Linked DNA regions of Homo sapiens. The protein of the gene in region 2 interacts with the protein of the main gene of each other region in a biochemical or structural test. Each region holds a gene or a part of one and is shown on either strand. Other genes may lie near its edges.

The links.
Region 1: of the proteins of LUC7L3 (region 2) and CLK1, one has a biochemical effect on the other in vitro, tested with the Homo sapiens proteins (one study listed by BioGRID).
Region 3: of the proteins of LUC7L3 (region 2) and SRPK1, one has a biochemical effect on the other in vitro, tested with the Homo sapiens proteins (one study listed by BioGRID).
Region 4: of the proteins of LUC7L3 (region 2) and SRPK2, one has a biochemical effect on the other in vitro, tested with the Homo sapiens proteins (one study listed by BioGRID).

What each region holds. Positions count from the first base shown.
Region 1 is NC_000002.12:200,854,284-200,862,059, forward strand, and holds part of CLK1 (dual specificity protein kinase CLK1), read right to left. Parts: intron 7,580-7,776; coding exon 7,419-7,579; intron 7,184-7,418; coding exon 6,955-7,183; exon of another isoform or gene 5,933-6,954; coding exon 5,842-5,932; exon of another isoform or gene 5,464-5,841; coding exon 5,397-5,463; intron 3,807-5,396; coding exon 3,690-3,806; intron 3,602-3,689; coding exon 3,435-3,601; intron 2,703-3,434; coding exon 2,608-2,702; intron 2,529-2,607; coding exon 2,399-2,528; intron 804-2,398; coding exon 721-803; intron 413-720; coding exon 333-412; intron 1-332. UniProt on the Homo sapiens protein: Dual specificity kinase acting on both serine/threonine and tyrosine-containing substrates.
Region 2 is NC_000017.11:50,714,014-50,722,602, reverse strand, and holds the start of LUC7L3 (luc7-like protein 3), read right to left. Parts: upstream 3,001-8,589; 5' UTR 2,871-3,000; coding exon 2,772-2,870; intron 1-2,771. UniProt on the Homo sapiens protein: Binds cAMP regulatory element DNA sequence. May play a role in RNA splicing.
Region 3 is NC_000006.12:35,868,323-35,876,098, forward strand, and holds part of SRPK1 (SRSF protein kinase 1), read right to left. Parts: intron 6,018-7,776; coding exon 5,911-6,017; intron 4,407-5,910; coding exon 4,241-4,406; intron 2,638-4,240; coding exon 2,612-2,637; intron 2,173-2,611; coding exon 1,959-2,172; intron 1,580-1,958; coding exon 1,160-1,579; intron 789-1,159; coding exon 688-788; intron 1-687. UniProt on the Homo sapiens protein: Serine/arginine-rich protein-specific kinase which specifically phosphorylates its substrates at serine residues located in regions rich in arginine/serine dipeptides, known as RS domains and is involved in the phosphorylation of SR splicing factors and the regulation of splicing.
Region 4 is NC_000007.14:105,140,277-105,148,052, forward strand, and holds part of SRPK2 (SRSF protein kinase 2), read right to left. Parts: intron 6,383-7,776; coding exon 6,217-6,382; intron 5,033-6,216; coding exon 5,007-5,032; intron 3,055-5,006; coding exon 2,808-3,054; intron 2,215-2,807; coding exon 1,732-2,214; intron 1-1,731. UniProt on the Homo sapiens protein: Serine/arginine-rich protein-specific kinase which specifically phosphorylates its substrates at serine residues located in regions rich in arginine/serine dipeptides, known as RS domains and is involved in the phosphorylation of SR splicing factors and the regulation of splicing.

The DNA.
Region 1 (7,776 bases), on a different chromosome or scaffold from region 2:
TCAGCACTTTGGGAGGCCGAGGTGGGCGGATCACAAGGTCAGGAGATCGAGACCATCCTGGCTAACATGGTGAAACCTTGTCTCTACTAAAAATACAAAAAAATTAGGCGGGCGTGGTGGCGAGTGCCTGTAGTCCCAGCTACTCGGGAGGCTGAGACAGGAAAATGGCGTGAACCCAGGAGGGAGAGCTTGCATTGAGCCGAGGTCACGCCACTGCACTCCAGCCTGGGCAACAGAGCAAGACTCCATCTCAAAAAAAAAAAAAAAATTAAGTTCTAATCAGCAGATGTGATCAAATGATACTAAGGATGTCACTAACTCTTAAAACGTACCTGGTTTTCTGTATCATATGTTTTGGTAGAGGTCCAAGAATCCTTTCCATCATTGCTAAATGCTCCTTACTATCGTGTGTCTAGAAATAAAATAAAAACAGACTTGGGGAAGATGACCACCAAAACAGACACAGTTAAAGCTGACAGCAAAAAAACTAACATTAAGGCTTGCAGAACAAACTCGCCAATGATTCCCTACATGGACACGGATAATTGCTTATATACTGAAAGATGTTTTAAATAAAACAATTATGAAAGAAATATGAATTAGTTTATTTATGCTTATCTACAATTAATAGTCTATAATGGGGGAAGCAAAAGTATTTATTCATATAAACAGGCACCTTTCTTGTGCAAAGCAAGGTTGAAATAGATCATTGTCACTTACTGGAAATACGGTAAACCCAAGATAGTATTCAATAAGAATGCATCCTATGCTCCAGACATCACATGGTTGGGACCACCCTAGGGCTGCAAAGCAAAGCAAAATTTAAGGAAAAAAAATACTCAATGTTTGTTAAAGAAATTAAAAAGTTAGTTAACACTAATACTTTAAAAAAAAAAACACATGTAATGTAGGCTGGGCACAGTGGCTCACACCTGTAATCCCAGCACTTTGGGAGGCCAAGATGGGAGAACTGCTTGAGCTCAGGAGTTCAAGACCAGCCTGGGCAACACAGCGAGATCCCACCTCTATTAAGATATATATATATCTGAATTGGCCGGGCACAGTGGCTCACGCTACAGGCATAATCCCAGCCCTTTGGGAGGCTGAGGCAGGTGGAACACGAGGGCAGGAGATCAAGACCATCCTGACTACACGGTGAAACTCCGTCTCTACTAAAAATACAAAAACAAAATTAGCCAGGCATGGTGGCAGGCACCTGTAGTCCCAGCTACTCAGGAGGCTGAGGTGGGACAATGGAGTGAACCCCATAGGCGGAGCTTGCGGTGAGCCGAGATCGCGCCACTGCACTCTAGCCTGGGTGACAGAGCAAGACTCCGCCCCCCCCCCAAAAAATTATATATATACACATATATATGCAATGTGATGTTTGAGCTGGAAGATCCTAAAGCAATCACTTAATCCAAGGTTAAATACAATATATATGGCCGGGCGCAGTGGCTTATGCCTGTAATCCCAGCACTTTGCAAAGCCAAGGCAGGCAGATTGCTCCAGGTCAGCAGTTTGAGACCAGCCTGCCAACATGGTAAAAACCCCATCTCTACCAAAAATAAGAAAATTAACCGGGTGTGGTGGTGGGTGCCTATAATCCCAGCTACTCAGGAGGCTGAGGCAGGAGAATTGCTTGAACCCAGGAGGCAGAAGTTGCAGTGAGCCAAGATTGCACCACTGCACTCCAGCCTGGGCGACAGAGTAAGTCTCCGTCTAAAAAATAAATAAATGATAAAAATAAATAAATTATATAGTGTTATATATAGTCTGGAATAAAATAGGCATTAAACAATTTTCTGAGATGGAGTCTCGCTCTGTCGCCCAGGCCGGAGTGCAGTGGCGCAATCTTGGCTCACTGCAACCTCCGCCTCCCGGTGTTCAAGCAATTCTGCCTCAGCCTCCTGAGTAGCTGGAACTACTGACGTGTACCACCACACCCAGCTAATTTTTTGTATTTTTAGTAGAGATGGGGTTTCACCATATTAGCCAGGATGGTCTCGATTTCCTGACCATGTGGTCTGCCCGCCTTGGCCTCCCAAAGTGCTGGGATTACAGATGTGAGCCACCGCGCCCCACCCTTGGCCTCCCAAAGTGCTGAGATTACAGATGTGAGCCACCGCGCCCCACCTGGCATTAAACAATTACATTTAAAAACCCTACCACATATTACAAATGTGAAAACAATTCCAGAAAGGTTAAGCCACTTGCTCAAATTCCCAGAGCTAATTATCTGGTACAATTGAGAGCTTAAAATCCATAATGCACTTCATGATACTTATCCCTTAAAGAGAATATGATAAAGCCCCACAAGTAAGACCTAAAACTGCTAAAAAAATTTTAAGTCTCAATAAGGAAATACAAAGGTTCTCAAAGGACAATTAATACTCACCTAAAATAACTTCAGGTGCTCTATAATGTCTTGTAGATACCAATGTACTGTGATGTTCGTCATCATATGTTGCACTACCAAAGTCTACAACTTTAATATCTGGATTTATTAAGGTGCGTTCATCACGTTTCTGAAAATCATAAATGATGGTTAAGAAGGCATAAGCTATTAAGGCATAAGATACTTTATGAATATTTTGGAAGACTTACTATTTTGGGATTATACGCCTCTGTGTAGTCAGACTGCACAAATAAGATGTTTTCAGGCTTTAAGTCTGTGTGAGTCAACTTATTACTGTGCAAAACTGAGAATAAAGAGAAAGTTGCTGTAATCAGAAAACACCAAACCAAACCAAATCACAAAACCCCACAACAGGCCGGGTGCAGTGGCTCACGCCTGTAATCACCTGAGGTCAGGAGTTCGAGACCAGCCTGACCAATATGGTGAAACCCTGTCTCTACCAAAATTACAAAAATTGGCCGGGTGTGGTGGCGTGTGCCTGTAGTCCTAGCTACTCGGGAGGCTGAGGCAGGAGAATCACTTGAACTGGGGAGGCAGAGTTTGCAGTGAGTGAAGACTGCGCCACTGCACTTCAGCCTGAACAACAAAGCGAGACTCCATTTCAAAAAACAAAAAAACCCAACAAAAAACCTCTGATTCCTTTCCCAAAGAATGGTCAACATTCCAGTCTGCTAGAAAATCACCAGTAACTAAAACTTACTACCTCTTATGAAGCTTTCTTTTATGAGATATATCACGCCTTAATTTTTACCCAGCATTCGAAGTTACTATTTTTGCGCATCAGAAAAGTCTAAATCATAGTCTGCAACAAAGTACGTTGTTATATGGTGGATATCCTACTTGCTGAATGAAATGTACACTGCTGGATCAACAGCCTGTAATCAAATCTCTTCATACCTATTCTTCCTCCCCCTTTATTTTTAATCAAATAAAAATTGTACACACTTAGGATGCACATTTTGATATGTGGAATGGATAAAACCAGCAAATTAACGAAGATATACCAAGAACTTACAATTCACAGACTTGCATATCTGATATGCCATCTTTCTGATATGATCCAGTCGAAATGGTAGAAAACCATTTTCTTTAATGAAGTCGTAAGTACTAAGTCCCAATAGTTCAAAAACAATGCAAATGTGACCATGATGCTCAAACCATTCCAACATCTGGACACAGCGGCTACAAACACATGAAAAATAGCTAAGTATAGTTGCTCCTAATTTAAATATACCTGATACCACTTCCCAAGTTCTAATCTGATACTTACAAAGTACTGTTGGGGTCTGTTGTATTCAGATGTTCCAGAACTTGTATTTCTGAGCGAGCAGCTTCACAGTATCTATCCACATTTTTAACTATTTTTACTGCTACATGTCTACCTCCCCTGTTAGAAAGATGCATGCAAATTTAAGAATGACAGACATGATGCTCAATTCCAGGTATTACTGTCTTCAAACTGTACTACTACTCTGACCCACTGTATTTTTTTAATTTATGGTTTAGTGTTCAGTTCTGATTCTATTACATGCTGAATGACACAAATTTCTTTCATCAAACCACCACTCACATGAGTTATTTTTTGGTATTTCAGCTAAACAACTTCTTCCTATATGGTACCTGTCACTGTCAAACATTATCTCAAATGTTCTTTTAGTCCAGGTTGCCAAAAGAGTTAGGATACAGTGGGGAAAGAGTAAAGAGCTCTAGGACCGGGAGCAGTGGCTCTCACGCCTATAATCCCAGCACTTTGGGAGGCCGAGGGTAGTAAATCACTTGAGGTCAGAAGTTCGAGACCAGCCTGACCAACATGGTGAAACCCTATTTCTACCAAAAATATGAAAATTAGCCAGGCACGGTGGTGTGTGCCTGTAATCCCAGCTTCCTGGGAGGCTGAGGCAGGAGAATTACTTGAACTCGGAAGGTGGAGGTTGCAGTGAGCCAAGATTGCACCACTGCACTCCAGCCTGGGCGACAGACCAAGACTCCATCTCAGGGAAAAGAAAAATAAACAAAAAAAGAGCTCTAGCTCTCATGTCCTTACCAATCAATAGTAGGAAGCCCCCTCAAAAATGCTTTGCCATTCAGGAAGAGGAAGAACAATAACAACAACAACAACAACAACAACAAACAGGGAACTAAAAAAAAAGAGTAACGGAAAAAATTCTATACTATCTTAAGAAATTTCATGGCTGGAGCCAAGCGCTCATGCCTGTAATCCCAGCACTTTGGGAGGCTGAGGTGGGCAGGTCACCTGAGGTCAGGAGTTCGAGACCAGCCTGGCCAACATAGTCTCTACTAATACAAACAATACAATACTAATACAAACAATAGCTGGGCATGGTGGCGCGTGTCTGTAGTTCCAGCTACTCAGGAGGCTGAGGCAGAACAATCACCTGAACCCGGGAGGCAGAGGGTGCAGTGAGCTGAGATTGCGCCACTGCACTCCACCCTGGGTGACAGAGCGAGACTCTGTCTCGAGAAAAAAAAAAATTTCAATCAGTAGTTTGATAAACATACATAATTAAACTTGGGACACCAAGTTATCTCCAGCTATGTTATCAGAATGAATTACAGCACTTCCTAAAAATATAGATTCCTAGGTAACTACCCTGAAAAGGTCTGGGGTAGGCAAACCTCTCGAGGAGGATCTTAACATAAAACCAAGGCTGAGAACCACTAATATGGTGGGGGAAAAAAATATGGCCTAACAACAGTGTCCAGTTGAACAACAAAACAATACTTTCAAAACAATATAAAGTGTGTTCTCAGCCTAAAATTAGAAATTATACATACTATTAGTAGCTGTTTAAAAAATATGAAGGGGCAAGTACCTCTTAACTGGAAGTGTCTTACATCCAAGTAAAAAAGGGTATAAAGATATGTATCTAACTCATGGTCAGACCACTTTCTAAAGCTAAATCAATTACCTGTATTGCCAACTTCCCTAAAAGTAATCCCAACATGGGAAACTTACGCTTTATGATCGATGCACTCCACAACTTTTCCAAAAGCTCCTTCACCTAAAGTATCAACAATTTCATCTAAAAGAGAGAAATAAATCTCAGTCATATCAAGAAGTGGAAACAATGTACTTATCACAATAAATGCTATCAATGTAGATTATTCTAGTTGATGCTACAAATTTCCTTATCACTAGATATTTTATTGGTCAACACCATCAAAAAACATAATTATTAGGTCTAATTTCATTAATTTGATTACTGTTCTGGAAGTTCTATATAACAAACATTACATTTCTAAAGAAAGCAAAAATACAATCCCCCCCACCAAAAGAAATGGAAAAATAAAACAAAAACAAAAAAGAGAAAGAAAAAAAGATTTCCAAATCCCTGAAAGCTTAATCTATATATAGATTATGTTATCTGAAAAGTTAATAAGTGTTGAAAAATATTCTATACATCTTGCACTTAGTACGTCTCCACTCTGACAGATCAGGTGACCCTCCTCATCATCCTCTACACTCCTGGTTCTTTTCCTTCGGTGACTCTTCTGGAAACGTCAAGTGGGCGGCACCAAGATCATCCAGCCAATCAATATACCCGAGTGAATTCAGGGCAGAATACGAAATTCATTCAGCGGGGAGATATTCAGGCATTCAGATACACGCCAGGCCACAAACGGTTGGCAGGAGCAATTTCAAATTCAGTCCCCAGAAATTCACAGGGCACATAGTTTATGTTAACAGGAGAAAAACATGGCAAGGAACAGATTTTCAGATAAGATACTCAAAGTGGCAAGGCAACAAAACATAATACAATTGTTTTTCTTAAAAAAAAAAAATGCTTAGTTGTAGCATTCACTGAAACATAATTTTTTAGTTTCTAGTGTTCTAATTTAATGTTGCAAAATCGTATGATGTAATATTTACTTGTCAAAGTAGGCGGTGGCCAAATTAAGATTTCCTACCTAATCTAAGAAAACAAATATTATAACAGTAAATAAAATTAAAGTGCTAATTTTGGGGAAAAAAAGATTTGGCATACAAGAATAACACTACGGCATTTTTAATGTCATCTGAGCTGATCTCCATACTAATATATAACCCATAACAGTTCAAATCTGTTCTGGTTTGCTTAGTGAAAGAAGGGTTAGAAAACATGACTTGTTAGAACAAAGAAGCATACCTAATCCTAAATTATACAAAAATAAAATGCCCTGTTCTACTTTTGTGATTTCAATAGATCAAAACTAATCAGGTTTCTTGAAGTACCACAAAAAACCCTTTTAGAATATTTTGTAATAATTTTCAACTAATCTAAATTAAATCAATTAACTCCCATCATTTCACTGGAATGTCAATTAGGAGCCAACCAATAATTAAATTATAGAACTAAATGTGTACTTTATTTCCGGAATTTCCTATCCAATGCACAAACACAGAAAAAATCCTGCAGGTTAAAACTGAGATGATTTCATCTTAAAACTTTCTCAAATAATCAAACACAAAAATTCAAGTTTCCCTGTTCCACATGGGATATAAAATTTCCAAAATGTTTTAAAAACGTTCATACCCCATGTGAACGACGATGTGAAGTACTGTGGTGAATCCTGTGTTTGCTTTTATAACTACTTCTTCCACTTCTACCAGAAGACTTGCTACTATGGTTCTGATACCGGCTTTCATGGTCTCTTTGGCGATGTCCAGGTTCACATCCTTGAGTGTAGTCATTTCTGTACTCATCAATGTAGCGTCGACTATGATAATCTTTCTCATTTATAGACCTGCTTTCCAAATAATGGCTAGAGAAATAAAAATTATTTTCAATGTTTTATGCTAAGACCAAATATCCTCACATTCTCTTCAAGACAGCACCTAGACTCCCCCACAAGCAGCTTAATTTTACAAACATTACAAACCATCAAAATCTCTCATTGGAAACAAACGAATGGTAGTAATCAGGTACTTATTTTAAGTGATACTAGTTTTGTCTAGTAATGTATTGTTATATTCAGACATTTTAAGTATCCTCCTTACCTATCACACATTTTAGAGTGATTGTATTTGCAGCGCTTGTTCTCCTGGGCACTGCTATGTGATCTCTTCCTTCTTTTATGACTGCTGCTGCTCCTCCATTTTCCATAATCCCAATCCTTGTCATCCCAATCAGGACAGTAAGTTCTCTTTGAGTGTCTCATCTACATAAAAGGCAAGTTTTTCCTAGTTAAATTGTACCCCACACTGAGCTGTTTAAAATTCGTAATTACAAAGGTCCCCTCGTGACCTCGTTTTAAGACCAAAATTCAAGAATCATTATCACCCAATCTGAAATCACTGATAAATCCAATTACTGTGTTGTCCCATATTCTGCAGTTTGAACTTCATTCACAGGCAC
Region 2 (8,589 bases):
ACCAATTAAGATTTAATTGTGCAGATATGCACAATTAAAAGCCCAGGACTAATCAGGATGGGTCAGGAAACAGTAGGTCACAAACTTTAGAATGCATAAGAGGAGCCGGCCGGGCGCGGTGGCTCGCGCCTGTAATCCCAGCACTTTGGGAGGCCGAGGCGGGCAGATCACGAGGTCAATAGATCGAGACCATCCTGGCCAACATGGTGAAACCCCATCTCTATTAAAAATATAAAAATTAGCTGGGCGTGGTGGAGGGCGCCTGTAGTTCCAGCTACTGGGGAGGCTGAAGCAGGAGAATCGCTTGAACCCGGGAGGCGGAGGGTGCAATGAGCCAAAATCACGCCATTGCACTCCAGCCTGGGAGACAGAGCAAGACGCCGTCTCAAAAAAAAAAAAAAAAAAAAAAAAGAATGCATAAGAGGAGCCATAAAAAATGCAGATACTGGGACCCTTCCCCAAGACAGACAGAATCTGACTCTCTGGGAAGGGGAGTTGAAGGGGTTGAAGTACAGAAATATGCATTTAAAACAAATTCCACAGGTCAAATACAGCTATCTAGGGACTACCTTTAATACTAGGTAAAGTTAGCATTTTGACTGTTAAATACTTACAGATGCCACGGCAACTGTCTTTTAATTAATGGTTGCTTCCTTTCCTTATTTTGGTATTTATCTCTATTCCAAAAAAAAAAACAAGGGCCCCATCCAGCTGAAATGGCTTCTTCCATTTAATGCAAGTATGGCCAAGAAAAATTTCCAGATAGAACAGGAATGCAAAAATATGTTAAAATATTAGGCTATAGAAAAGGTGACTCCTTTTCAGCATATAATGGGTTTGCCCATCCCTGCAGGTTTAGCACTAACAGCCAACAGTACAAGAATATGCAGATGACCCGGAAACGATATCAACAGCTTCCCCAGCTTCATTATACAATAATTCCACCTATTTAGATGAGACCATGTGCTTTGTTTTTGCTCAACACTACCAACATTTTCCCTGCAGATATCAATCTGAAATGCCAGTAACTGACTTGAAATCCTTCAATCTAGAGTGAAGTGCAATCTGTCATTAAGGCATTAAATACTTTAGTAATAAACACTGAAAGTTAAAATTAGTGAAAAGTACTAAAACTGAAAGCAAAGCAGATTACGGCTGAGATGACATAAAACCTAAATTGCTATTCTGAGGGCCTCATCATTGAAGAGTCATAAACCCATCACATACAATGCAATGTGGCAACAAATTACCCCGGGAAAGAAAACAGTTTCTCTAAAACGTGTTCAAAGTCAAGGGTGCAGAGATACAAGGCTGTTCCAACTGATAAGGAGTGCAATGGAAAGCATTTTTCTCTTGAATTCAAAATATACAAATAACCTATTGAACATAAGCCAAATCGCCATAATGTTTTGGTTTTTTACCTTACTTAGGATTTTGAGCGTTATTCCTAACACATTTGCAAAGTTTAGACTGAAAGGTTACAGAGTCAGGTAGTTAAAAAAAAAAAAAGTTACTTCGCTATAACAAAGATGCCTACAAAAGAAAGATGGTCAAGGTAAGCAGTTCCTTAGTCTCCTATTGTGACAAATGGTCGGGGGGATGGGGAGCCTAAATGTTAAAAACAAAAAACCCACCTCTTAAAAACAATAAATTCTACTCTAAGAATGTTTCATACTACTTTGGAATCAGTTAGCACCCCAACACAACTTGAGCCAAACTTACTCTTTCTTAAAGTCCTAAAAGGAGTCATCTAGCACCAACTTGCTTTCCTACACTGCAAAAAAGAAATTTTACCTTAACCAAAGCCTACGTTTAAAAAGAGTAAGAAAACAGTTTTCTAAAGAAGCATGCATTACCTGAACTATTCCTTCCTATTTTGATTAGCAATTGTTTTAAAATTAGCATGTTAGATTATAACCTCAAAGTAAAATTAAATTCTGTATCTATTCTCCAGATAAGACCTAAAGTAAACATTACACTGCATGTTCAAAACTAGATCAAAACACTTGAAATGCTACAGTAGGTGCAGAGAACCAGTTTCATAGGATTGTGGAAAGCTAACAGAACTACAAAGATTAGTTTCCTCAGTTGCCAAGACTTTGGGTGAGCCTTTTTAAGTCTCACCAGTGAAACTGGGGTTATAATATTTACCTTTACTCCCCGGGCTAAGAGCATCAAATGAGTTTTATGTGGAAGAAAAAACCTTGACAGCTGCCTCTATAAGGGACTTCTTAGAATACTGTTAACGAACAATACTTGTAAATCATCACGGTAAACCCTAACAAGTAAACGACTTCTTTTACATTTCTATTTCCCCGTATAAGCGTCATGCTGTAATTACTTAAATAAAATACCGCCACGATTTTTACCATGAATCCTGGTCAGAAATTTTAGTCTAAATACGACGTTCAACCCAAACTATAGAAAAATGTGCCCTTCTCCCTATTTCATAATGAGGTGAAACCTCGGAGCCGCTAGATTTAATAAGACGCTGCTATCCTTCTTTCCCGCGTTTCCCCGCCTCATCAAGGTGCTTTTCAATTATGCCAAGGGCTCTCCCGGACCCCCTTGATACTAGAACAACAAAACCAAATCACCCCCATCCCCGGGTCCGGACAGCATCCTCCCTCCTGGCTCCATGGGCACCGGGTCAGACGCTCGACCCCGGGTGCGGCCCTGGCCACATCGCGCCGCGGCCAGGAGGGCCACAGCCCGCGCCCGCTCCCCTCCCCCACGGAGCCCGGGCTCAGGCCAAGGCCCGCGGGACTTACGCTCTCGTGGTCCCACCGCACGTTGCTGCGCTTCTCGTCCGGGGCTAGGTTTCGGTCCCGGCCCATTAACTCATCCAACAACTGCGCGGCCGAAATCATGGTGCTTCCTTCGGGCGGCTGTTCCCACCAGCCCAGGCACCCGCCAACGAAAACACGGGCGACACCGTCGCCAATCTCCTCGGCCCGCTCTCAGGCCGAAATCCCTCCTACACACAGGAGCCGACAAGACAAAATGGCCGCCGCGCGGACGCCTTCCCAGCATGCCGTGCGCCCGTGGGACACGCCCAGGCCCGGGCGGAGAGGGCGAGCTCGGCTTCCGCCGTCCGGGGGCGGGGCCCGCGGAGGCCGGGTAGGGACTCCGCCCCTGTCTAGAGGCCGCGGGGACGGGTAGCCTCTGCCCGCGCGCCTCCCCAAGCGCCCGGTTTTCCCGAGCTTCTTCACGGTGAGAAATTGGAGCCTAGGTCTTGAAGCCTGGACACCGCTTCAAAATGGAGAAAGTGTCTCCTTTAGTCCACGTGGTGCACATGGTGCCTCATGCAGCGGAGGAAACTGAAGATTACGGCTTCCGACTCCATTTTCCTAGTCGCTGTGCTCACGCCTCTTGCACCTGGCTTTGTCCTCCCGCCCTGAGTCTCCTGATTAACAGGATGGGAAATCGAGGCAAGAAGAGACAAGGCGGCTTCTAAAATACGGGGATTCAGTCCTACACCAAATGTCTCCCAGTGTGGAATTTTTTAAAAAGATATTGATCCAGTAGGCCAGGTGAGGTGGCTCACGCCTGTAATCACAGCACTTTGGGAGGCCGAAGCGGGCGGATCACCTGAGGTCGGGAGTTCGAGATCAGCCTGACCAACATGGAGAAACCCCGTCTCCACTAAAAATACAAAATTAGGTTGGCGTGGTGGCGCATGCCTGTAATCCCAACTACTCAGGGGGCTGAGGCTGGAGAATCGCTTGAACCCGGGAGGCGGAGGTCGCGGTGAGCCGAGATCGCGCCATTGCACTCCAGTCTGGACAACAAGAGCAAAACTCCATCTCAAAAAAAAAAAAAAAAAAAAAAAAAATATATATATATATATATATATATATACACACACACACACACACACACATACACACACACACACACACATATATATAGATAGGTAGATCCATTTATTCAACAAATGGTATGTGCCAGGCACTGTGCTTAAAGCTAAACTCAGAACCTTTCAGACAGTCCATGCTCCCGCAGACCTGTGCATTGGCGAGGGGAGATAATCGCTGAAGAAATAAAGTCACAAATATATCAACGTATGTTGGGATAATGCTTTAGCACAGTTAAGGGTATGGTCTCTAAAGCCAGATTGCCTGGGTTCGTAATCCCAGCTCTGCCGCTCTGTGCCTTTGTTTCCTTTTCTGTAAAATGGGGTTTACAATAGTCCTCCCCCGGCCCCCAGCCACGATGCTATTGTGAAGATTAAATGAGTTTATACAATGTAAGGCACTACACATTGATAACAAGCCCAACACTTTTATTTTTGGGGGGACTGGGTCTGGCCCTGTCACCCAGGCTGGAGTGCAATGGCACGATCTCAGCTCACTGCAGCTTCAACCTCCCGGGCTCAGGCGACCCCCTCGCCTCAACCTCCCCAGTAGCTGGGACTACAGGCGCATGCCACCACGCCCGGCTAAGTTTTTGTATTTTTGGTAGAGACGGGGTTTCGCCAAGTTGCCCAGGCTGGTCTTGAACTCCTGAGCTCAAATAATCCACCCACCTCAGCCTCCCAAAGTGTTGGGATTACAGGCGTGAACCACCGCGCCCGGTCGTGGACACCTCTTTTTAAGAAGGAAAGCAGCAAAATAGGGTGAGAACTCAAAGGAGGTATGGGACATGAAGCCTTTTTTTTTTTTTTTTTTTTTTTTTGAGCTATCGCTCAGGCTGGAGTGCAGTGGTACCATCTTGGCTCACTGCAACCTCTGCCTCCCGGGTTCAAGTTTATCCTGCCGCAGCCTCCTGAGTAGCTGGGATTACAAGCACCCGCCACCACGCCCAGCTAATTTTTGTACTTTTAGTAGAGACGGAGTTTCGCCATGTTGGCCAGGCTGATCTCAAACTCCTGACCTCAGGTGATCCACCTGCCTCGACCTCCCAAAGTTCCCAAAGTGCTGGGATTACAGGCGTGAGCCACCAAGTGGGGCTGGAGCCTTTTTGAAGATAGGAAATTAGAGGCTAGACATGGTGGCTCACGCCATAATCCCACTACTTTAGGGAGGCAGAGGCAGGGAGATAGCTTGAGGCCAGGAGTTTAAGACCTGCCTGGGCAACATAACAAGACGCCATTCTCCACAAAAAGGAAAAAAAAAGAAAAGACCAAAAAAAAAAAAACCCCAAACGTAGGAAATGAGAGAATGTTTAATGTTGGGGATATTCCAGTAGAGAGGTGGAAAATAAAAGAAGGGGATAGTTAATGACTTAAAATCTTAAAAAGGTAACGGGTTGGGTCCTGGCGTGGTGACTCACGCCTGGAATCCTAGCACTTTGGGAGGCAGAGGTGGGTCATTTGAGGTCATGGGTTCGAGACCAGCCTGGCCAACATGGGGAAACCCTGTCTCTACTAAAAACACAAAGGATAGCCAGGCGTGGTGGTGGCGCCTGTGATCTCAGCTACTCGGGAAGCTGAGGCAGGAGCATCGCTTTAAACAGTGGACTGTCAAGAGACTTAGGCTGTAGTGAGCCAAGGTCGCGCCACTGCACTCCAGCCTGGGCAACAGAGTGAGTGAGACTGTGTCTTAAAAAAAAAAAAAAAGTAATGGGTTAGGCTCCAGGGCATATTTGAAACCTCTGGCCTTTGATAGGAGAAAGGATCTTCTCCACTGAAACAAGAAAGAAGAAAATCAATTTACAGATTTAGCAGTGAGATGAGGCAGTTCTCAGCTGTTGGTTACAGTTTTCCCAATGAAGCATTTATTGAGGGCTCTCCACTGTTACTACCACCAAAAAAAAAAAGGCCGGCCACAGTGGCTCACACCTGCAATCCCAGCACTTTGGGAGGCCGAGGCAGACAGATCATGAGGTCAGGAGATCAAGACCATCCTGGCTAACACGGTGAAACCCCGTCTCTACTAAAAATACAAAAAATTAGCCGGGCATGGTGGCGGGCGCCTGTAGTTCCAGCTACTCCAGAAGCTGAGGCAGGAGAATGGCATGAACCCGGGAGGCGGAGCTTGCAGTGCGTCGAGATTGCACCACTGTACTCCAGCCTGGATGACAGACTGAGACTCCGTCTAAAAAAAAAAAAACTGAACCACAAACAAACAGGACTGCACACATCATGAACCGCAAACACACAACCAGATTGCAAAATTACAGTTCCTGCCCATCACAGGTTCTTAATCTAATTATCTCATTCATTCCACAAACTATAATGGTGCATGTGCTCTTTGCCAGGACCTGGGTTACTGGCTGGGAATACAAAGACAGACGTATAAAACCTGGTTCTCCAGGAGCTCCTGACCTATGGGAGACAAATATGTCACAACTACAATTTGGTCTTGAAATGAAAATACTTGGCCCAGCCATGGTGGCTCACACCTGTAATCCCAGCTCTTTGGGAGGCCGAGGCAGGCGGATTGCTTGAGCCCAGGAGTTTGAGACCAGCTGGGCAACATAGCAAAATCCTGCCTCTGCAAAAAATACAAAAAATTAGCTGGATGTGGTGGTACATCCCTGTAGTCCCAGCTACTCACGAGGCTGAGGTAAGAGGATCACTTGAGCCCAGGAAGTCGAGGCTGCAGTGAGACATGGTTGCACCACTGCACTCCAGCCTGGGCAATGGAGTGACACCCTGTCTCAAAAAGAAAGTATTAAATGCCTTTGAATCACAGAGGTGAGAGCGCCTGGCCCTGTCATACACCAGGCAAGTCTTACTCTACAACTCTCTTTTTTCTAAAGTCTGAGGACAAGCCACAGTTCAGTGTGCATTACCACTACAGATAATGAATTGCTTCATTCATCCTTCATTAATGCAGTGAGCCCCAGTGTGATCTGTATCAGATTCTCTGCTATGTCTTGGGATCCAGAGGTAAAAGTAGTCTTTCTTAACAGGTCACAAAGCCCATTTTACAGATAATTTTGATGGATTACAGGAGTTGGCTATTTCCCAATGATGGAATGGGAAATGACTTAATCTTATCGGCTAGTGGTGTCCAGACCCCATTCCATACCTGTTACTAATAGAAAATGTTACGGGCTTCGGGCACAGTGGCTCATGCCTGTAATCCCACCACTTTGGGAGGCCAAGGCAGGTGGATCAGGAGTTCAAGACCAGCCTGGCCAACATAGTGAAACCCATCTCTACTAAAAATACAAAAAATTAGCCGGGTGTGGTGGCAGGTGCCTGTTCTCCCAGCTACTTGGGAGGCTGAGGCAGGAGAATTGCTTGAACCCAGGAGGCAGAGAGTGCAGTGAGCTAAGACCATGCCATTGCACTCCGTCCTGGGTGACAGAGTGAGACTCCATCTCAAAAAAGAAGAAAATGTTATGGGCTGAACTGTGTTCCTGTCACCTCCAAACTCATATGTTGAGGCCTAATTCCTGGAACCACAGAATGTGACTGTATTGGGAGATCGTGCATTTGAAGATGATGATGAAGTTAAAACAATGCTGTTAGGTTGGGCCATAATCCTATCATACTGGCGTCCTTATACGAGGAAATTTGGATACACAAAGAGGCACCAAGGATGCACTTGCACAGAGAAAAAGCCACGTGAGGACATGGTAAGAAGGTGGCCATTTACAAGCCAAAGACAGAGGCCTCCAGAGAAACCAAACCTGCCAACACCCAGATCGTAAACTCATAGCCTCCAGAAAATAAAAATCTCATTTGTTTAAGCATCTAGTCTGTGGTATTTTTGTTATGATAGCCCTAGCAAGCTAATATAGAAAGGAAGCTGCAGTTACTACAGGTCTTCTCACTGCTTCCCAGCCTCCCAGCCTCCAGTGCGGGCCCCTTGACCCCATCCTCCATCTATCTTGCTGCCTCAGTCACCTTTCTTTTTTTTTGAGACGGAGTCTCACTCTGTTGCATAGGCTGGAGTGCAGTGGCACGATCTCGGCTCACTGTAACCTCTACCTTCCAGGTTCAAACAATTGTCCTGCCTCAGCCTCCTGAGTAGCTGGGACTACAGATGCACGCCGCCATGCCCAGCTGTTTTTTTTGTTTTTTTTTTTTTTGTACTTTAGTGGAGACAGGGTTTCACCATGTTGCCCAGGCTGGTCTCAAACTCCTGAGCTCAGGCAATCCGCCCGCCTCAGCCTCCCAAAGTGCAGGTATTACAGCCATGAGCCACCACGCCCAGCCATCAGTCACCTTTCTAAATGTAAATCTAGATGTGTCTCATCCCTGCTCGAAAGGCTCCAACTGGCCAGGTGCAGTGGCTCACACCTCAGCACTTTGGGAGGTCGAGGCTGGTAGATTGCTTGAGCTCCAGAGCTTGAGACCAGCCTTGGTGATGTGGCGAAACCCTGTCTCTACTGCAAATACAAAAAGTAGCTGGGCATGGTGGCACGCGCCTCTATTCCCAGCTACTCAGGAGGCTGAGGTGGGAGGATTGCTGGAGGCCCAGGAGGCAGAGGCTGCAGTGAGCCAAGATGGCACCATGCATTCCAGCCTGGGTCTCAAAAAACAAACAAACAAACCAACAAACAAAACGCCTCCAACCTTAGAGGCGATGGCTCCCCATCATCTCCACTCTAAGGTTCAAACACCACAAGGTGGTCTGTGCTCTGACCCCCTTCTCCAACTTCATCTGCTACTGCTTCCAGTACTTGGAAGAC
Region 3 (7,776 bases), on a different chromosome or scaffold from region 2:
CATCAAAAAACATATAATTATTTCTAATTACATGTCATTACGAATAACTAAAAATAAGTTAAATGACACTATACATCATAAAGCCCTTTTAAAAATCACAGAACTTCTGACTTAGCAATTCTATGTCTAGGACATGTCCTAAGAAAAACTATACAAAGATTTGCGTGCAGAGTCTCATCACAAAGAGCTGTCAAAAATATGTAGATTAAAGTGTACTAGGGAAACAATGTAATGAACTGAATTGTATTTAAATTTCTGGCTGACAAAGCAAAGTGTCCAAAATATGTTAAGTGAATTAAAAGGAGGTTACAATTTATAAGTTAGTCATCAATTTTGAAAATGGGAGTAGGGGAGTATGAACATAGGCACTGAGTGTCTGAAAGTTAATAATGATATATATATTAAAAACAAGATTGGCCAGGAGTTGACATTACTGAATCTGGGTGATGGGTATCTGGAGTGGGGTGGGGTAACAGAAGGACTTTTCATGATCACGATTACCATTCTACTTTCGTAAGTATATTTAAACTTTTCCATAGTAAAAGGTTTTTTTAAATGTAAAAAAATATTCACTGAAGTGTTGTATCAATCTGGGTACAGAATTATGGATGTTTTGCATAACTAAGTCCAAATTCTCATTCATCCTCCCAGTCACTTCAAAACACCATTAAGGCAAGTTTAACTTACCACCCAACAAGCATTTCCAAGGTCAGCAATCTTCACCTTGAGCTTTTCTGCATTTTTTGGCTCAAGGGGATTAACAAGAAAATTTCCAGCCGTGGATTTTCCTACAGACAACAGGCATCATCAATAAGACTGTTCAATGAACAGAGAAATACTCAATGAGTAATAAAGCTCTCCAAGGTAAGAGTAATACAGTCAGCAATACCCAAGTGACAACTTACATTTTCTGAGACAAAAAGAGCACAGCAACGCCTTGAGTTTCCAGAATTAAAAACCTCTGCCCTCACAGCAACAAATGAAGTGCTGTGTACTCAGTACATGATGGATAAAGTTAGCTACAGATTACAATTTAAACGTAACTTAGACACACCTGTTGTAAAGCTATAGTTACAAAAACAATCATACTTTTAGTCTAGAAATCTGTGAATGTGTTGTGCAGGGAAGGAGTGTTGAGGAAGTATAGCTGCATAGGTACCTTTGTTGTCCAGTGGTCCGTTATGTTCTTGCTCTTGTTCATCTTCACAGGGTATCTCTGCCCGAATGCTTTCTTGAAGTTGGCTAATGTGTTGTTCACTGAATGACTGACCTACAGTTGAGGAAGACTGGCACACCATGGTGTCTGACACCTCAGATGTTATAGGTGTACAAGAGTCTGTTTCTTGAGATGTGCTGCTGTCTCCATTTTGGGAGCTTAGGAAACTAGATTCCTGATTCAAATTTTGGACATCACAGTCATTAGCATTATGTAGATCCTCTTTATGTCTCAATGTTTCATTATTACTGTTCTGAGTATAATTAATGACTTCAATCACTCCATTGCAATTAATTTCTGCTGCACCACCCTCTGTATCACGTTCCATAAGCGTTTGATCCTGGCCAATGGTACTTGACTCTTCTAAGGAACAAACGAACAAAAAAAGATATATGCATATGTGTGTGAGTGAAAGAACAGAAACATTTCTCACAAGATTAAAACATTTTCTAGAACTTATACTGAGTGACATAAAAACATGACTAAACATCTAAAACCTATTTCCGGAAGGGCCAAGATCTTACTTTTACCCAATTGTTAAATGAAATCTATGTTCCATTTCCTGAGAAAAGTTACAAATTACATTTAAATATTACCTGCCTAACATTTATGACAAGATCCATATTCTTATAAAGATACCCCCAGAGATGTGTTGTATGTATGAAACCACTGTATTATATAGCAATGATAAATTAACGTTAAAGTGTGTTGTACAGTAATTTTCGTGATGTTCTATTTATACCAAGTTTTTCTTGGGTCATTTTATTAGGTGGGTTCTCTTTCAAGGGTCTTTCAACAGGACTCTCTGATTCTTCTTGCTTGTTTGGTCTTTTTTGCCCAGGGCCCGACTCTTTCTCCATTTCCTCAATTTCCTGCATTCGCTTCTCTAGTAATTCTGCCTGGCGCTTCTGCTTCTTCTTCAATTTCTTCTTCTTATTCTTTGACATTTTGTCAGCCTGGGCGGAGATTACAAACAGATAAAGCCTTCAGGTGGCTAATTAATTACCCCCAGTTGGAGATAGTTGTTAACTTTAATTACTTCCTAATTAAATTTCACAAATCTTTCCCTAACATAGCACTTAAGTCTTTCATTAAATTAAAAGATGCGGGATACTCTTATAAACCCAAATAAAAACAGAATAAATAACAAAGTGTGGTCTTCTGAGCAGTCCGTGGGGTTGGTTTACATTCAGACAAACTCGAATTTTTTAGAGGCCTCACCAGTACAAATGTGATGAAGGTGCATGGGAATTTACTGGAGAAAATTATAGAAGCGCAGGAATTTTTTTTCCTTTTGGTTCTCAAACTTGAAACAAACTGTTACCATCCACAACAGAAGAACCCATGCCCATAGTCCATAGATCAAAATTAAATATAAAAACACCTTATACTTACTGGTTTAGGCTGGGGAGCAGTACTGACTGAAAAGAAAAGAAAACCAAGTAAGAATTCTGGCATTCATCAGGCAATATAAACTAAGGCTCAGATAAAACACTCTACCAGAATGAAAAGTCTTTCTTATGTAGTCTACATTGCAGAGAAAACTATTGTTTTTAAATGACTTAAGTAGAAGCTATATTATTACCATTTTTAAAGAAAATAATGAATAGAAATTGCCAAACTTAAAAAAAAGGGATAAATAAAATTCTTCCTCCCCAGGTAAACTAAAGTTGCTAAAAATCACCTATTTTCCATTCCCATGCACTGCTTAAAATAGAATGGGACAAGCAACAACCTCTTCACCTCAAATGCTACCCAGAATCTGTCAGTTTTAAAAGGGGAGTCTAGGTGACATCAAGAGCTATAGTAATTTGCTCTACAGCATGTCATGGATAACAGTGTAGCTTAGCTGGAAGGTAGGATCTTCAGTCTTCCTCTTTTTAAAATATTAGTATAATAACTGTGGTTAACAAAAAACACATAATAAAAATTTATACTCTAGATAAGTGTACATTCAGTGGTTTTAACACTATTCACACTGTTGTATAACAGGATCTGTAGAATGTTTTCATCTTGTAAAACAGAAACTACATCCATTTAACAACCAACTCCCCATTTCCCCCTTCTTTAGTCTTCCTTTTTAAAGAAGTGTATAACTAATAACTCAACTTGAGGATCAAGCAAGTTCCTAAAAAATGACACACTACTAAAACTAAAATCTGTATCTCAAAAGAAAAAAAATCATAAAGCAGCCTTTATTTATTTATTTAATTTTATGTCTTAGACAGGGTCTCACTTTGTTGCCTATGCTCGAGTGCAGTGGTACTATCACAACTCGTGGCAGCCTTGACTTCCTAGGCTCAAGCAATCATCCTGCCCCAGCCTCCTGAGTAAATGGACTACAGGCACGCATCACTATGCCTGGCTAATTTTTTTAATTTTTGTAGAGACAGGGTCTTACTGTGTTGCCTAGGCTGGTCTCAAACTTCTGGGCCCAAATCATCCACCCACCTCAACCTCCCAAAGTGTTGCGTTACAGGCATGAGCCACTGTGCCTGGTCCCGCAATTTATTTGGTATATAATATTGTGTGGCACACTACTAACTGCTTTACCATTTAATCCCAATAATTCGCAGTTGAGGGAAAATAAAGTAAAATAACTCAGCTAAGGTTTCTCAGTCTAGGATGAAGCCCAAATTCAAACCAAGTCTGTCTACTCCAGTGTTTAAACCTAAACTATTAATAGCAATGTTATCTTGTCCCTCTACAGACTACCAGTCCTATAAATGAGCATGTGTGATCACAGTTAGAGGTAAACACTTCAAAAATCATCAACTCATAAGAAAAAATATTTTTAAACAATACACACCAGCTTTTATAACATACAACACAAAGACACAATATCTAGTTTTCTCCTTCCCCTATGGAAGTAACAGTGAGAATGTCTCTTGGAAGCTGATAATGTTTCTTAAATATGTTATTGTTGAAATGGATTGAGTGGTGTTTAATTCCCTGGTAACAGAATAAAAATAGAAATTTCTTTTTAACTTCTAATGATAGCGAAGTCCCTAAAAGAAAATACACCTGCAGATCCGGAAGGCGGAGGAGCTCCAGATCGCTGCCATTCTGTTGCTTCTGCAGCCAGCCTCCGAATGTACTGCTCATTCACTGACAATAAGATGTTCTCTGGTTTAATGTCAGTGTGGATGATACGGCACTTGGTATGTAAATAATCAAGACCCTGTAACACCTGAATGGAAATAGAGTGGCAGACTTGCAAACACAAAATACAGGCTTTCTGGAGAAGTAAGAGATTATAACATGACATTAAAAAAAAAAAAAAGATATGATAGCGTTTTCTATAGAGAATAAAAGCACCTTTTAAAAAAGCACAAATAAACTTTCTCAGAAAGATTAAACTATGAAAAAGGCAAGAAATTATTTACAATAAAAAATTCTTCAATGTTTTACAAAGCTGATTCTATTTGGAGATATTCTTCAACTATGTACAATGCAAAGACTGAGAATAAACTTCAACACACACACACCCTCTAAGTGTTGTAATGTAGGTGCTGACAGACATTTAGATATCTTTAATTCAAATTTCCTCACTGAGGAAGAATTGAGGTCTCTTGCTGCCCAGTTTGGAGCTCTTTCCAGGACATATAATCCAAACAAATTTTTGCACCTTGAAGTATTAATATTTTCCTGATGGTAAAATCTATACTGTATATTGAAGGCTCTTTAGAAAATTAGAAAATGCCTATGAATCATGCTGTATAAAGAGATGGCAATAATCTGACATAGCAATTATCTATTCATGTAAAATTACTATTTGCAACCAGAACTTCTGGATAAGGGCTCCAATGTTCCCAAGTCAGGAACCTCAGCTTCCCTTTCTAATTATTATAGGAGGCAAACCTGGGGGAAAATGGTTATGCTAAAACATTTAAAAAGAGAATAAGCACAATAAATTCTAAAGGTTGAATGAAATATTTAATTTTAGCAATTAACTTTTTTTTTTTTTTTGAGATGGAGTCTTGCTCTGTCGCCCAGGCTGGAGCGCGGTGGCGCGATCTCAGCTCACTGCAACCTCCGCCTCCCGGGTTCAAGCGATTCTCCTGCCTCAGCCTGCCGAGTAGCTGGGATTATAGGCGCTTACCACCACACCCGGCTAATTTTTGTATTTTTAGTAGAGACGGGGTTTCGCACTGTTGGCCAGGCTGGTCTCGAGCTCCTGACCTCAGGTGATCTGCCCGCCTCGGCCTCCCAAAGTGCTGGGATTACAGGCGTGAGCCACCGCGCCCAGCCAATAACTTACTTTTTAAAACAAAGAATTTTAAAACAAAAATTCTTTTTTTTTTTTGAGACGGAGTCTCGCTCTGTCGCCCAGGCTGGAGTGCAGTGGTGTGATCTCGGCTCACCGCAAGCTCCGCCTCCTGGGTTCACGCCATTCTCCTGCCTCAGCCTCCCGAGTAGCTTGGGACTACAGGTGCCTGCCAAGACACCCGGCTAACTTTTTGTATTTTGAGTAGAGAGGAGGTTTCACCATGTTAGCCAGGATGGTCTTGATCTCCTGACCTCGTGATCTGCCCGCCTCGGCCTCCCAAAGTGCTGGGATTACAGGAATGAGCCACCACACCCGGCCTTAAAACAAAAATTCTATTGGAAAAAATAAAGTCCTGACACTTCAAGAATATTAAAAAATCACTACATAGTCAAGACTAAGATACTTGCTGATTCAAGATACATACTTGCTGAATAATTTTTTTGACACAAGGCAGTGGAAGCCCCTGATAATTGGATTTGATGATCCACTTGAGCAGATGATGCCCCAAAACTTCAAATACCATGCAGATATCTAGGAATTCATTAAGGAGGGAAAAAACGGCACAAAAGAAGAACACGGCAAGACAAGCTGTGAATTCCACCCTATTAAATGTTATGTATTATTTTCTTTCAGTATAAAAAGTTACAGAGCTTGAATGAATAAATATGTAGCTGTTAATATTCTAAAATTTCAAAGTCTAATGCTATAGTCAATGAAAGCATTCATGAAACATTAAATTGTGGGCGGCTGGCTTCATCAATATTATTATGTACATTAAAATACTCAATGGTAAAAGAAAAAGTGAAACCTACATATGCAAATAGTGAAAGAAAGCAGTAGGCTCAAGCCTCAAGCTGTTGATTAGCTTCAGGTAAATTAGTTTCTTCCCTAATATCAAAATTGGTGTCCAGGGTAAAAATTCCCACTCTCACAGCTTCAAAGCAAGGAAAAACAAATTATTCCTTAACTATAGAAGAGATGAATGTACAAGAAAGACTTAAACCTCAAAAACGTAAATGCCAACATTTTTTTTTAAATAGGAAACTTGCTTAATGCTCTGTATTTTACAAAACTAATCTTGATTCCAGTGCCACCATGTGTTGTCCTTATGTATGAACAACCTGATGACACCACACAGCAGGAATACTCTGAGTCTAAAATTGTGCAGGGCACTACAGAGATTTTAGTAGTATCTTGATGTCTTCCACCCCCACTGGCTTCTACATGCAAGTTAAGACATACATATATAGTAATGGTCTAGTGCTCAGACTTTAACATTCTCCATTAAAGGAAAGCCTGAGCTCCTTGGAAAAATGGCCAAATCCAAGGTAGGAAAAATAACAGGGTAAACTTGGAACACCTTGCTGTTCTAACAAATAAAAGAACCTGTCAGGAAGAAACAGGAACCATCTTGAAAAGGATGTCACCAGCCAACATGGAGACTTCTTTTTTTTTTTTTTTTTTGAGACAGAGTCTTGGCTCTGTTGCCCAGGCTGGAGTGCAGTGGCACTATCTCAGCTCACTGCAACCTCTGCCTCTCGGCACTACAGGTGTGTACCACCACGCTGGGCTAATTTTTGTATTTTTAGTACAGATGGGGTTTCACCATATTGGCCAGGCTGGTCTTGAACTCCTGACCTCATAATCTACCTGCCTTGGCCTCCCAAAGTGCTGGGATTACAAGCGTGAGCCACTGCGCCCGGCCAGACCACTATAAAGGATAAAATTATGAGTTAATATATGAATTAAAAACAGAACAAGTCCACACTGATCTGAAAGTAAGTGTGGAGGCAGGAGGAAGAGAAACATCTTCTTTAGAGAAGAAAGCCAAATAATAAATACATAAGGGATTACAGAAATAGAAAATCACCATTTTTACAATCACTATAGTATACTATTACTGATTCAGGTAAGAATCAGTGAATACTAAAACAACTATGTGAAAGACTGTCGGGAAAAAGGATTGTCACAGTGTCAAAATATCATTCCACAGATTGCTTATTAATTACAAAAAGAACAAAGTACCTTTACAACTGGGAAATCTGGAAGGCACTGCCTTAACCAAGTGATCAAACTTACTACCACCAATGATAAGCACAAATTCACACCATGTGCCTTCTAATGCAATATACTAATATGCATTCGAATGCATATTCTAATGCAATAATCCATGTACTATGCTTGACAAACACGGTTAACCTGAATTTAATCATGAGGAAACAATCAAACAAATCCAAACTAAGGTGGCATAAAACAACTAGCCTGGATTCTTAAATTAAAAAAAAAAAAA
Region 4 (7,776 bases), on a different chromosome or scaffold from region 2:
GCTAATACTTGCAAAATAAGTATGAATAAAAAAGGTACTTTGAGCTGGTCATGGTGGCTCAGGCTCGTAATCCCAGCACTTTGGGAGGCTGGGGAGGGCAGATCACCTGAGGTCAGGCACTGGAGACCAGCCTGGCCAACATGGTGAAGCTCTGTCTATACTAAAAATATAAAAATTAGCCGGGCATGGTGACGGGCGCCTGTAATCCCAGCTGCTCGGGAGACTGAGGCAGGAGAATTGCTTGAGTTCAGGAGGCGGAGGTTGCAGTGAGCTGAGATTGCACCACTGCACTCCAGCCTGGGCAACTAGAGTGAGACTGTCTCAAAAAATAAATAAATAAATGAATGAATAAAATAGAAATAATTAAAAAGGTACTTTGTAAATTACTTTCTATATGAAACTTCAGCCGGGCGCGGTGGCTCACGCCTGTAATCCCAGCACTTTGGGAAGCTGAGGCGGGTGGATCACGAGGTCAGGAATTTGAGACCAGCCTGACCAACATGGTGAAACCCTGTCTCTACTAAAAATACAAAAATTAGCCGGGCATGGTGGCACGCGCCTATAATCCCAGCTACTCAGGAGGCTGGGGCGGGAGAATCGCTTGAACCCGGGAGGCAGAGGTTGCAGTGAGCCGAGATCGCGCCACTGCACTACAGCCTGGGTGACAGAGCAAGACTCAATCTCATAAAAAAAAAAAGAAACTTCAAGTAAGAGAAAAATTGAACTGCAACAGCAACAATAAGTCTGGATAAGGTACCTCTCACTACTGCCCTTTCCCAGAAATTAACCTACATTCTATGTAAGCACCTTCAAACACTCCCTGGAAAGGGGAACAGGAGCTGACCACGTCCAGCCAAGTAAAGAAAGCAAATCCTTAGGAGGATTCATCATAGCCAGTGCGTAACAAAGCCAGCTTACTCGGCGTGCAATTCCAGACTGCTGGAACCAAAGGGGCTGCAGAATGTCGGGCTGTTTGCAGGGCTGGCTCATCAATTTTACTCGCTGTGTGTTAAACAGTCTTGTCAGTAGAGGGAGCAGAGGGAGGTTTCAGAGCTTTTCCCCCATAAGCCAGTATGGAAACCAGCTGTGTTACCCAGTTTTCACTTACTAGAGTCACTTGGCATTCACTCCCAAAATAAGGCTTTGAATAAGTCAAGCCTTCTTAGGTAGACAAGAACACAAGAGCCAATCTATAATCTGTCATCACATTTAAATCCATGCCAATTCCTTGAAAATTACAATCCTGGGCCAGTTACCAATAGTAGGGTCCTATAATCAGGAACAACTATCAAAAGACAATATGACACTTCTTTCTCAATAGAGTCAAAGAGGAGGCATAATTTTCTTGAATAGAAACAAAACAAAACTAAACTAAACTAAATATAATGACATTAGATGGAAGAAGATACGAATTTTAAACTAAACTACACATTCTAGAAAGGTGTAAGTTGCTAAAACTGGAAGGTTTTTGCAAATGATGCTGCTGACTAAATATATTAAAAATGAAAACTGGTCAGAAATAAGATTTGGTATGCAGAGAGCAAGAAATAGCCTAATGGCATAGAAAATTTATTTAAATCACATTACTTCTTCAGGAGTATAAAAGTAATAAAACTGATCAGTACACACACACAGGGCTTGGCCACTTCCAGCCAATTCCTTCACAGCATTTGTTAAAGGCACGTCCCTGGAGTCAGCGATGGCAGACAGTTGATGGGAAGAAACACTTACCTTTTGGCAAATCCCCAGTACTGGAGGCTGAAACCGTTCTGCTTCTGTCATGGGATGGACTGCTCTCCTCTTGCTCAGTAAGTGGTGATCCCTCAGAAAGCACAGAGCCGCAGGCCACAGGTTCTAAGGATCCAGAGAACAACGAGGTGGAAAACTCTGGGAACTGTGACTCGGGAATTTTATGTCGTCCATTTGGCAATTCACCATTGAATTGTTCATAGGAGCTGCTATATGTGTAATCACTTTCTGCATTTGGCTCATCAAGATTATATTCCTCAGGATTTGGGCAGTCTTCTTCATCATCATCTTCATCGTCCAGTTGCTGCTCCAGTGAGAATGGGCCATTCTCAATATGGCCATTGGTTTTAGGTGATTCTATCCACGTAGGGTCTATGTTCGCAAGTTCCTGATCTACATCATCTTCATCTTTTTCAATGTTTTCTTTCTCAGCATCTTCTTTCTCTTCCTGGTCCTCAGCTTCACCTTAAGAATTTGATGGGTCAAGAATTAGAACTTGTTACTCTCCTTAATACAGCCTCATTAAGTACTTATCTCCATCAATAAAATACATTTTGAATATGCTTATGTACCACCTGGTAAACACCTCTTGGCTTTTGGGGTAAAACCTTCAGGTTTTCTAAATCTCATTTTTCATTCATTTAGTAATTGGCCTGCTCTTATAAGAAAAAGTTAGCTTTAAGGGAAAATAACTCTTTCTAAATAAAGTTGCACTTCCATTTCTACCCTCTATAATCTTCAGAAACAGACTTGTGGTGCATTACAGTTAGGTAAAAAGTTAATGACAAAATAAAGCACCATCATTAGCATGATAGAAACATGGAATTTCTCAATTATTTTACATTTTTAAAAACTATTTTGAAATGTTAACATATTTCTGGCATACAGTTCACAAATGAAGTACGAGGCTATTTCCCATATTTCCCAATAGGGAGTTGGAGAGAATCATCCTTGTCATCTGCAGCAGCAGCACAAATCAGCCCCCATGTTGACCTGGCAGAACCCTACTAATGGAGCTCTGAGAACCCCATGCAGCCCAGGTTCCAGGCCCCACTGACCATTGTCCTTTGCAGTCTCTGCCTCAGCCGCCTCCTCTAATCCTGTTGTTTTTAGTTTCACCTCTGGGCAGTATTCGCCATCCTGGTCATTGGAAGGTGCAGCTGAGGTGATGTTTTCTTCTATTATTTTCCTTTCAGCTTCTCGCTCCAATTCTTCTATCTCCTGCAGGCGCTTCTCCAATAACTCAGCCTGCCTCTTCTGTTTCTTTTTCAGTTTTTTCTTTTTGTTTTTAGATATTTTTCCTATCTATGTTAAGGAAAGACCACAGGTCAGTATTCTTCTTTTTAAAGCACCACGATAGTATAACGACTAGCAGCATGGCAAATAGCAATAAACTCTGCTTTCTCATGCCATATTCTATTAAAATCCCAAACCCAGACAGATCCACTTTGTGGTAAGGCTTACGATAAAATCAAAGGGAAAGCAGTGCTGACTGATATCACGTACTAGGTCTACTACCAGGTCCTGCCCTCAGAGGGATATAGCTTAAATCCAGTAAGTCTTCACCATTCAAACTCTAAGAGAACTGAAGTTCGAAATTCTCTTGGCCTTAAAGGAGAAGCTCCTCTTGCAAGTTTTATTTGCTGCTGTCTATATACAAAGTAACAACATCCCAGCTCCTCAATGCCAAAAATGAAACAGGTGCCCGAGCAGGTGTATGTCACTGTGTGTTTGGGTCTCACATATGAAGCTCTTAGCAGCCAAGACAACATGAACTGTAAGAGATAAGCCTATGCTGCAAAGGGAAAAAAGAAAAAGCTACAGCTTTTGTCTGCCTCCCGTCATGGTTACCTGACTTGCAAAGCACTGGCAATGACAGCCTCCAACCTTTCAATCAATCAGTAAATTCAAGCAGCTCAAGCCAGGGAAGAACTATGGGAAACAACTTGAGCTTCTCAGCAGGCCAGGAAGCTTAATTATTAAAGCTCCCTCTTGTTCCAGAACTTACATTCCAAATCAAGAGCTGTCTCAGTAAAAATAGTGTTTTGTTGTTGTTGTTGTTGTTTTCTTTGAGACAGAGTCTCTGTTGCCCAGGCTGGAGTGCAGTGGCGTGATCTCAGCTGACTGCAACCTCCACTTCTTGAGTTCAAGTGATTCTCATGCCTCAGCCTCCCATGTAGCTAGGACTACAGGTGCACACCATCACACCCGGCTAATTTTTTTTTTTTTTTTTGAGATGGAGTCTCACTCTGTCGCCCAGGCTGGAGTGCAGTGGCGTGATCTCAGCTCACTGCAACCGTTACCTCCTGGGCTCAAGTGATTCTACTGCCTTAGCCTCCTGAGTAGCCGGGATTACAGACGTCCACCAGCACACTCAGCTAGTTTTTGCATTTTTGGTAGAGACAGGATTTCACCATGTTGGCCAGGCTGGTCTTGAATTCCTGACTTCAAGTGATCTAGTGGCCTCAGCCTCCCAAAGTGCAGGGATTACAGGCGTGAGTCACCACACCCAGTATCTAATAAGGACATAGTGTTTTGACAGGACCACAAAATAGATCAGTCTCTTTCTTATTTAACATCCGCATGGAAAAAATTAGAACAACAGCTTCAGAAAAACAGGTAACTTAGCAGCCAATCAGAAATAATGTAAAGTGGTTTTGAAATAAAAATACTTCAACTCCATCACCTCACATTTCACTAAACTTGGCCACCATAGTCCAGAAAATGCATAAAGAAGACAATTTTTGAAAGGCTCTAACTATCCCAACTCTGCACAGATCATTAAAACTTAACAAGACAGGCTGGGCGTGGTGGTTCAAACCTGTAATCCCAGAAATTTGGGAGGCCGAGGCAGGCAGATAACTTGAGGTTAAGAGTTCGAGACCAGTCTGGCCAACATGGTGAAACCCCTCTCTACTAAAAATACAAAAATTAGTTGGGTGCGGTGGCAGGTGCCTGTAATCCCAGCTACTCGGGAGGCTGAGGCACAAGAATCGTTTGAACCAGGGAGGGGGAGGTTGCAGTGAGCCGAGATCGCACCACTTGCACTCCAGCCTGAGCAACAGAGTGAAACTCAGTTTTCAAAAAAAAAAAAAAAAAAAATTAACAAGACATTAAGTCTTACCTATTTGAGGATACACAGCTTTTATAAATGTGTCTACCCTTTAAATACACAACTTTTTTATAATTTGAACAACTCAATAATAAACGGTCTCTTTTAACATGGTGCATATAAAGTAATATGCGTAAGTACTTACAGGTTTCTGCTGTGGAGCCGTACTCACTAAAATAAAATCAAACAAAATCTGTATTTAGCAGAAAACAGACACATGCCTTCATGTAGGTCATTCGAATTGCAAAGTGAAATAATTATTGTCTTTTAATGGCTATCCAACTTCAAAAACTATTAATCAGAGCTTCTTAATCACAAGGATCTAGAGTAAGTTTATGCCACTGAAACAAATGAGTGACTCCTGAAGTCACAGCAGAAGTTACTCATACTGAGCCATTTCTCTTATTTATCTAAAATGAAATACTAATACATCTCAAACACAGTCAAGCTCAAGCACCAACAGATCACTTAAGAAAATGGAAAAGAATACATATCACAGTCATTAAACCAAATTTGTTTAAAATATAATGAAATGAACAATGTAGATGTACATCGATATTTGGAATCTATTTTGCAAGCTTTCTATAATTTAAATCAAATACTGCAGTTGGTATGCAGCAAATAGTCTAGGAATCACATGATTAAACCCCTACACCAGGGTCAAAAGCTTAACAGGCTGGGTCCATGATCTAAACAACACCCTGATGGCAGTAAAGGAGATGTGAAGAGAGCCCCAGGCAGTCCCAGGAGCCTCAGCCCTTTAGTATCCATGCTTGCCTGACAACACACAAAGGCACAGATCATGGTGTCGAAGAGTGAGAAGCACAGTCCACACTTCACTGCACCACCTCCCCGACCCCGCCCCAGAAATAAAGATATCCCAATACTCAGGTCACTTGATCTTCTTCCCCCACCATCAGGCCTTTTCTAACTAACTCCAAATCTGTTGATACAACTCAGGTTGACATAGCTATGCTAAATGGACAACAAGAATTTATGTACACAAAATTGAAGCCAGAAAAATATTCTGATGACTAAAGGTCAGCTACAGGAAAGCTGTTACTATGTTCTCCTCTGCAGAGAAGCTGGCAACAGAAAAAACTGTTCAAATATAGATGAAGCAGCAACTACAAATTTAAATGGCCTTTTAAAGGGGGACAAAAGTAAATACTTCCAATATTAAAATATAATGTAGCTGGGGCATTTTCCATTTCAAGGGTGCAGTTATTTCCAGCAATTAAACTTTTCCAAAATCTTCCTTATGTGTAACGTTTGATTCAGATACCTTCAACAACTGCAACTTTGCAAGCTCCCAATGCCCCCACACTGAAATGAAGCTGGCTCAGCTCCCTCACCTGCAGACCCTGAAGGAGGAGGAGCACCTGCTTTCTGCCACTCAGTGGCCTCAGCTGCCATTCTTCTCACATATGCATCATCCACACACATCAAGATATTTTCCGGCTTTATGTCAGTATGAATGATCTTGCACTTACTGTGTAAGTAATCTAACCCTTGAAGGACCTGGATATAGTAAAATCAAGAGAGAAGATAAGCTATTAATATCTCATTATATAACTTTTATTTATTTGAAAAACATGTAATACAATGCCAGGGTACAAAGTTTGATAAACACAAAAGGATATTTAGTAAAAATCTCCCTCCCATGCCTACCCACATTGGAATCCAGCTCTCCTTTCCATAAGCAACCAGTGTGTATAATTTCAGAGATTATTTATGCTCGTGGAAGCAAATGCATCTACATACAGTTGAACCTTGAACAACACAGGTTTGAACTGCATGGGTTCCCTTATACACAGATTGTCTTCCACCTCTGCCACTCCTGAGACAGCAAGACCAACCCCTCAGCCTACTCAACGCGAAGATAATGAGGATGAAGACCTTTATGATCATCTACTTCATATGATCTATCCACTTAATGAATAGTAAGTATATTTTCTCTTCTTTATGATTGTCTTAACATTCTTTTCTCTAGCTTACTTTGTTGTAAAAATATGCTATATAACACACATACAAAATACATGTTAATTGGTCATGTGATCATTAAGGATTCTGATCAACAGTAGGCTAGTAATTCATGTATCATACAATTGACCCCTTTAGGTATACAATTCAATGGATTTTAGATGTGCGACTATCATTACTATTTATTTTTTAAATTTTTTATGTATTTATTTTTTGAGACAGAGTCTCGCTCTGTCACCCAGGCTGGAGTGCAGTGGCACAATCTTGGCTCACTGCAACCTCCGCCTCCCAGGTTCAAGCAATTCTCCTGCCTCAGCCTCCCAAGCAGCTGGGATTACAGGCGTATGCCACCACGCCTGGCTAATTTTTTTTGTATTTTTAGTAGAGACGGGGTTTTACCATATTGGCCAGTGGTCTCGAACTCCTGACCTTGTGATCCACCTGTCTCGACCTCCCAAAGTACTGGGATTACAGGCGTGAGCCACCACACACGGCAACTACCACCACTATTTAAATGACAACATTTTCATTGCTCCAAAAAGAAACAACATATTCATCAGCATTCACTTCCCATCTCTCTCCTACCCCTTCTAACCCTTAGCAACCACTAATCTACTTGCTGATTCTGGACATTTCCTATAAATGGAATCATATAAAGTATTTTTTTGTAACTGGCATAATGTTTTCAAGTTTGACTCTTGTGCAGCATGTATTAGTACTTCGCTTATTCTTATTGGCAAACAGTATTCCACTGTATGGAGATACAACATTGTGTTTATCCCTTCACCTCATGAACATTTGGGTTATTTTCACTTTAGGGGCTATAAAAATAATACTGCTATTCACACTCGTGTATACATTTTTGTGTGAACATACTTTTTTTGAGGGGAGGTATATACCTAGGAGTTACCGTACTTAGGTCATATGGTGCC